Linked DNA regions of Homo sapiens. The protein of the gene in region 2 purifies or fractionates together with the protein of the main gene of each other region. This does not show direct contact. Each region holds a gene or a part of one and is shown on either strand. Other genes may lie near its edges. The genes, in order: FAM114A2 and NAA15.

The links.
Region 1: the proteins of NAA15 (region 2) and FAM114A2 fractionate together in Homo sapiens (co-fractionation; one large-scale study listed by BioGRID). This does not show direct contact.

Annotation. Positions count from the first base shown.
Region 1 is NC_000005.10:154,021,765-154,025,594, forward strand, and holds part of FAM114A2 (protein FAM114A2), read right to left. Parts: intron 1-3,830.
Region 2 is NC_000004.12:139,384,973-139,388,802, reverse strand, and holds part of NAA15 (N-alpha-acetyltransferase 15, NatA auxiliary subunit), read right to left. Parts: coding exon 3,825-3,830; intron 2,671-3,824; coding exon 2,573-2,670; intron 920-2,572; coding exon 719-919; 3' UTR 1-718. UniProt on the Homo sapiens protein: Auxillary subunit of N-terminal acetyltransferase complexes which display alpha (N-terminal) acetyltransferase (NAT) activity. The NAT activity may be important for vascular, hematopoietic and neuronal growth and development.

The DNA.
Region 1 (3,830 bases), on a different chromosome or scaffold from region 2:
AATGACTTTCTTCACAGAATTGGAAAAAACTACTGTAAAGTTCATATGGAACCAAAAAAGAGCCCGCATTGCCAAGACAATCCTAAGCCAAAAGAACAAAGCTGGAGGCATCATATAGACTTCAAACTATACTACAAGGCCACAGTAACCAAAACAGCATGGTACTGGTACCAAACGGGAAATATAGACCAATGGAACAGAACAGAGGCCTCAGAAATAACATCACACATCTACAACCATCTGATCTTTGACAAACCTGACCAAAACAAGCAATGGGGAAAGGATTCCCTATTTAATAAATGGTGCTGGGAAAACTGGCTAGCCATATGGAGAAAGCTGAAACTGGATCCCTTCCTTACACCTTATACAAAAATCAATTCAAGATGGATTAGACTTAGACCTAAACCCATAAAAACCCTAGAAGAAAACCTAGGCGATACCATTCAGGACATAGGCATGGGCAAGGACTTCATGACTAAAACACCAAAAGCAATGGCAACAAAAGCCAAAACAGATAAATGGGATCTAATTAAACTAAAGAGCTTCTGCACAGCAAAAGAAACTACCATCAGCGTGAACAGGCAACCTACAGAATGGGAGAAGATGTTTGCAATCTACCCATCTGACAAAGGGCTGATATCCAGAATTTACAAAGAACTTAAACAAATTTACAAGAAAAAATCAAACAACCCCATCAAAAAGTGGGCAAAGGATATCAACAGATATGTCTCAAAAGAAGACATGTATGCAGCCAATAGACACGTGAAAAAATGCTCATCATCACTGGTCATCAGAGAAATGCAAATCAAAACCACAATGAGATACCATCTTACACCAGTTAGAATGGCGATCATTAAAAAGTCAGGACACAACAGGTGCTGGAGAGGATGTGAAGAAATAGGAATGCTTTTACAATGTTGGTGGGAGTGTAAACTAGTTCAACCATTGTGGAAGACAGTGTGGTGATTCCTCAAGGATCTAGAACTAGAAATACCATTTGACCCAGTGATCCCATTACTGGATATATACCCAAAGGATTATAAATCATGCTACTATGAGGACACATGCACACATATGTTTATTGTAGCACTATTCACAATAGCAAAGACTTGGAACCAACCCAAATGTCCATCAATGATAGACTGGATTAAGAAAATGTGGCACATATACACCATGCAATACTATGCAGCCATAAAAAAGGATGAGTTCATGTCCTTTGTAGCGACATGGATGAAGCTGGAAACCATCATTCTGAGCAAACTATCACAAGGACAGAAAACCAAACACCACTTGTTCTCACCCATAGGTGGGAACTGAACAATGAGAACACTTGGACACAGGGCGGGGAACATCACACACCTGGGCCTGTCGTGGGGTCAGGGGATGGGGGAGGGATAGCATTGGGAGAAGTGCCTAACATAAATGATGAGTTGATGGGTGCAGCAAACCAACACGGCACATGTATACATACGTAACAGGCCTGCACGTTGTGCACATGTACCCTAAAACTTAAAGTATACTAATAAAATAATTTAAAAAAGAAAAAGATACTTGCACACGCATGTTTAAGCAGCACAATTCAAAAGTGCAAAAATGTGGAACCAACTCAAATGCCCATCAATCAACGAGTAGATAAAGAAACTGTGGTATATATATACATGATGGAATACTACTCAGCCATAAAAACGAATGAATTAATGCATTCGCAGCGACCTGGATGAGACTGGATGCTATTGTTCTAAGTAAAGTAACTCAGGAATGGAAAACCAAACATCATATGCTCTCATTCACAAGTAGGAGCTAAGCTATGAGGATGCAAAGGCTTAAGAATGACACAATGGGCTTCGGGGACTCAGGGGGAAAGGATGGGAAGGGAGTGTGGTGTATACTGCTCAGGTGCACAAATTGGGTGCAGTGTATACTGCTCAGGTGATAGGTGCACCAAATTCTCACAAATCACCAGTAAAGAACTTATGTAATCAAACACCACCTGTTCCCTGATAACCTATGGAAATAAAAAAAATTGAAAAAAACAGAAGACAAAAAGCACTGGTAAAGATAACTATGTAATTATAAATGATATACATGTATATTTCTTCTCCTTAACTGATTTAAAAAGAAAAAGAAAAAAAAGTCCCTGTTTGTAGAGAATCCACACAGTTAACTTTATGTTTCCTGTCACAAGAAAGACTCTAAGACCCTCACTCAGAGCTCTTTGCTTTTAATAGACATCTCAAATAAAATTAGTTACCTGGTTTCTCACCCACAGATTAGAAATAGAAAACCAAATAAGATTCAGGGGATATCAGAAGCCAGCTAACAGTGAAGTAAAAGATGAACAGATAAATGAACAGAAAGAAATAAAGATGTACAATTCTAAAAAGCAATCAGAGACATTTCTAAAAAGCATTGCAGTTTAGGTCATTTAATCTGGTAATTCTCAAACTTGTTGGTCTCAGGACCTTGTTCTTGTAAAACTTTCTGAGAACATTAAAGAGCTTTTTTAGTGTAAGTTTTATACATATACATATAAAAAGTTATAAATATTTATATAAAGCTAAAACAAAGTGTTTATTAATTCATTCAAAACAGTAAACCCATACCACTTATTAACATAAACCTACTTTTTATTTTAAAAAACTATATTTTTCAAAAAAGAAAAAGTTTAGTGAGAACAGTGCCATCAGGGTTGAATCTCTTTAATATCTAGTTTAACAGATGACAGCTAAATTCTCTTATCTACTTTTATATTCAGTCTGTTATGTTGCTTTAAGTATATGAAGAAAATCCAACTTTACAAAGATACATAGTTGGAAAGGGAAGAAGTATTTTAATAGCCTTTTCAGATCATTATTAATATTCTTTAATACCACATTAAAACTCAACAAGTGGTCGTTTCTTAAAAATTAGTTGCAATGAACCATATTGCAGTATACCTGAAACCATATCATAAAATTTTGTACACTAAATTAAAATCCATTAGGTCTTTTACCCATGGTGATTTGACATTTAGAAAATATTGGTTCTCTGAGTTATGCAGACTTTCCAAATGCTGACACATTTCCTTGTTAAAATATCAAAAAGTGATATTTTAACAAATATGATCACCACCAATTTCATAAGAAGAGTCTATAAGCACTGGGAAGCTGTCAAGCTCACCACAGCAGCAAATATGTTTTACAAAGTTTCAACCTTCACTTAAATTTTTATCATGACTCACAAATAAATTAGTTGCTCTCCTTGAAGAAAAGGTTCACTTCATTCATTTTCAGGAAAATGTGTACCAATTATCCTATTCTGAATAGTCTCTGTGACTGTTATCCTTTCAAGTAAAAATGGTATTCCACGAAAAAAGCACATAGTTCAGCTCACAACTCAAATAATGTAAGTGCTTTTCCTGAGACAACCATCATACTTCAGTAGGCATCACACAGAATATTTGTAAGATGCATACTTAAAGGTAAAGATTTAATAAAATTAATAATTTTTACTGCTTCATCAAGGACAAGATTAAATAAAACTGGCACTTTTTTTTTTAACTGCCAATGCATGGCAATGAAAATGCAATGACACTAGTAGAGTCTGCTAACATCTTGATCCATGTTATGGCACCAGCAATTTTATGCATCATTGTTATTCACCAACAGCACAAATGCCAAAGCAGAAAAAAAACTCATTATAATTTTTAAAAAATTCCTAAGTAGACAACATCTTAGTATTATGATGCAGAGTTCTGACTCATAGACTCCCTGAAAGGGTTCTGGGAATTCAAGGGTCTACAGACCACACTTTGTTCATCACTGATTTAACCTACTACATGGGTGATTGGC
Region 2 (3,830 bases):
AGTTCTTCAAGTTTTAGTTAAAATTGAGACTGTTACAACTGGTTCCTTCAGTTAAAAACTGTGGTACAAGAACACCAAACTGATCATGTACAGTGAATTTTGGAAACACAAGCGTATTGAACACCTTATAGGTTTCTTATAATTTTGCTTGGTATCTATATGTCCCAGTTTCTACAACATCAAGCATCTGTTGTAGGTTTCTCTGTAAATAGTGATTCACATTGCATACTTCCTATGGTCAGAATCAACCCCGTAACAAAATCAGTCAGATGCTAAAGCCCCAACAACTCTTTGTGCTCAGTGAAAGAATCCAGTGCTAAAACAGCATTTATGCTGTCTGAGATATAGTAAAATCTCACAAGACAAATTTAAAGTAATATTTCTGCCACACACCTGCTTTGTTAGCTGTAACAGCCTCCAGATTTTATATAAATTAGTTTAAAAACATGGGTGGGTGGGGAGGAATAGGATAAGGTATCTTTTTTAACCACTCAATTTTAGCAGCTTTAATTTTTTAAGAAACTGAACCTCTATCCTGTAATGTTAGATATTTTATATATACTTTTTCAGCAGGATAAAAAACGTAAAACACTATTTGAAGGCAAGAACATTTACTCCTCTCATTCTGTGTAAGTTAGAGCAATGCAGCAGGTGCGTGACAAAAATATTATATACTAGATATGGTCCAAAGTCATTCCATTTGCTTGTTTAGTGATGTTCAAATTTCATTGGCCAGTTCTTCAGCTTCTGCAGAACTATCTCCATTAACTGTGATCTTCATATCCTCTTCATATCCAGGAGGCATGAAAGCCAAAGCATAAGGGAAAAGCTTATGACAATTTGCTCTATAAATTTCAGCAGCTTCTTTACAGTCTCCTAGGCTACCATCATACAAGGCTTCCAATACCTCCATACATGTCTAAGGAAAGAAAAAAAGTCATGTTGTAACTGGTCAAAAAAAGGTTCTTACTGGGAATTTATTAGACATTTCAACAGCAAGAGATTTCTAAAATAAGAAATAAATACACATATTTAGCTATTTACTCCTGCATATGCATTCTATTAGAATGTTCTTCAAGGCCTAATTTAACCATTTCTCCAGAATTGCAGGATTTATACAAAAGGCTAAACAGGGATGACTGCAGAAACAGGAATGGGACTATGGTGAGGCAAGCAAGGTATATGGAGTGCTACATTTAAAAAGCCACTCACTCTCAGCAAGCGTATGACCTTAGGCAGCAATGTTACCTCAGCCTAGCCTGGCCCTGGGTATAAACATCTAGATTTACAATGCCAATACCAATTACTGCACATATGCCTTCTAATATTTTTGAAAGCTTAGAGCCAGCCAGCAAACTCAAACACTGTATTCAACATTGTGTTCAAATTAAAGAGCAACTTAAGGCACATCCAATAACTAAGCAGAAAAGAGTGTCTCAAACATGAAGTGATTATTTGCAAGAAAAATTAGTTCATGAAAATGAGTAATTCTTTCAACCAAACCCCTAAGTAAGTCTGCTTCTTATCTTTTTTGTTGATTCATGTTGATTTGCATTTCTCATGTTTGCTTTCTTAATATTTTCACTTAGAAAAGCTACTTAGTTTCCACATGCAAAAATCCCTACAAACTTTGCCAGGTTACAAAGCAACTTAAATCCAGGTTACAAAGGACCTAGATTAGAACTTTAAATCCAGGTTCTAATCTAAATGGTAAAACAAACAAGTCTAATTTTTCTTTCTTAAAGATACTGCCTTCATTTGCTATTAAATGAATATATTTATTAATAACTGTCTTTCAGCATATACATGTTTATCTGGCAAATTATAACATGAGGTAGCTATCCCTTTGTTTCTAGTTTAAACTACAGTATTTTACAATACACCCATATTAATTTTTATTTAACTTAATCTCATATTGTATTACAAGTTACAAAATAAGTATTTTTATTTAGCCCCTAGTAAATACATCTTTCTTTATTTTGAGATAGGGTCTTGCCCTGTTGTCCATACTGGAGTACAGCGTCACAATCACAGCCCACTGCAGCTCCAACCTTTCAGGCTCAAGTGTTCCTCATATCTCAGTCCCCCAAGTAGCTGGGAATACAGTGCCACCACATCTGACTGATTTTTTTTTTTAAGAGATGGGGTCTCACTATGTTGCCCTGGCTTGTCTCGAACTCATGAGCTGCAGTGATCTGCCCACTTTGGCCTGCCAAAGTGCTGGGAATATAGGCCATGAACCAAAACGCCTAGCCAAAATACATTTTAAACATGTTAGAATCTCCACTGAGACCACTGCTTGCTCAGAAATGCAGAGATATGAAATGAAATCCAAAAATGACGATGGAATGTATATGATTTTATTAAAACATATTTCTTAAAAAGTTATTCCAAGCTACAGATGTGAAACTAGTTACTGAATGCCAAGCAGCCTAAATAAATTTTAAGATAAGTTGTTTCTGACCCAGATTCATAATGATTTAAAAAACAGTGTGTATAAATACCCAATTATTTCTCTTGGTGAAAAAAGTAGTTAAGTATTCTTACAGAGAGATTATGAAAAACTCTTTACCTGGAGGTTTCTGTTAGTGAGAGATTCATCAAGTGTTGTTGCCAACTCTATAGCTCGCTTCTGACTAGAAGGATCTAAGTAATATACCATTTTGGCAGCTAAATGAGAGGGAAATAGGAAATTTATTTCAAGGTAAAACCAACATCTTATCCTCTACTTATTTAAATATAAAAGGCAAACAAGATATATATGCAGAGGGTGTGGCACTTTATTAGAAGAATGGGAACAGCTACTTGAGATACTGTTATTCAAAAAATAATAATGCTAAGGGGATTAGCTTAACCATCCAAAGAAAGAGAACAATAGAGGTATACCACATATATCTACCCAATAAAATAGAATGTATATGCAACACATGCACAGTAAAGGAGACTATGAAGAAACACAAGCATTCTAATAATACTTGTATTTTTGTGGTAGGACCATGATAGTCTTCTTTCTGAAATAAGCAGAATAATGTGGAGGTTGGGGGACTATCCTATCTCAACAGTGTGAGCCAAAATGCTGAATTCAGGATTCCACAAAGGTATACAAAGCTGCTGGGCTTAAGCCAAGTATTTGAAAAGTACTACCCACATGGTCCCATAAAGGTCAGATTTTGGCTCATTGGCACAGACCCTTGACTTAGATTTCTCACAAACTGTGAAGATAATTTCAGGTGTTTAGCACTGTCAACTCTGATACCTACATAAGAATGAGAAATGGAAGACGATGGTCCTATCTGAGTGAATTTTAAGAGCCCAATGATGAAAAAAGAAATAAAAGAAAGCTCTACCTTCATTTTATGATATACATTTAAGTTTAGTTACACCTGCTTCTTTGTAATGCCAATGCTGAACCAGAAGAGACCACTGACTTTGATTTGTAGTGATTATTTTGCCGTAAGAAATTAAAAAATGTATAGGAAGCGCATATATATATAATATATATTATATATATATATATATTATATATATATATGTTTGGTTTTGTTTTGATTTGAAACAGGGTATCATTATGTTGCCCAGACTGGCCTCAAATTCCTGGGCTCAAGTGATCCTTCTGCCTCAGCATCCTGAGTAGCTGGGACTACCGGTATGTGCCACTGTGCCCAGCTTAGGAAGCTTATTTAAGCTGCCTGTTTTCATACGATCACAATGTAACATATACACACTGCCTCTTCCATTCTAAAAACATGTACCTTATATTATTGTTGATTCATTAAAATTACTGAAGTTGTTTTAGAAGGCTAAGGATAAAATAAAGTGATTACCTGATA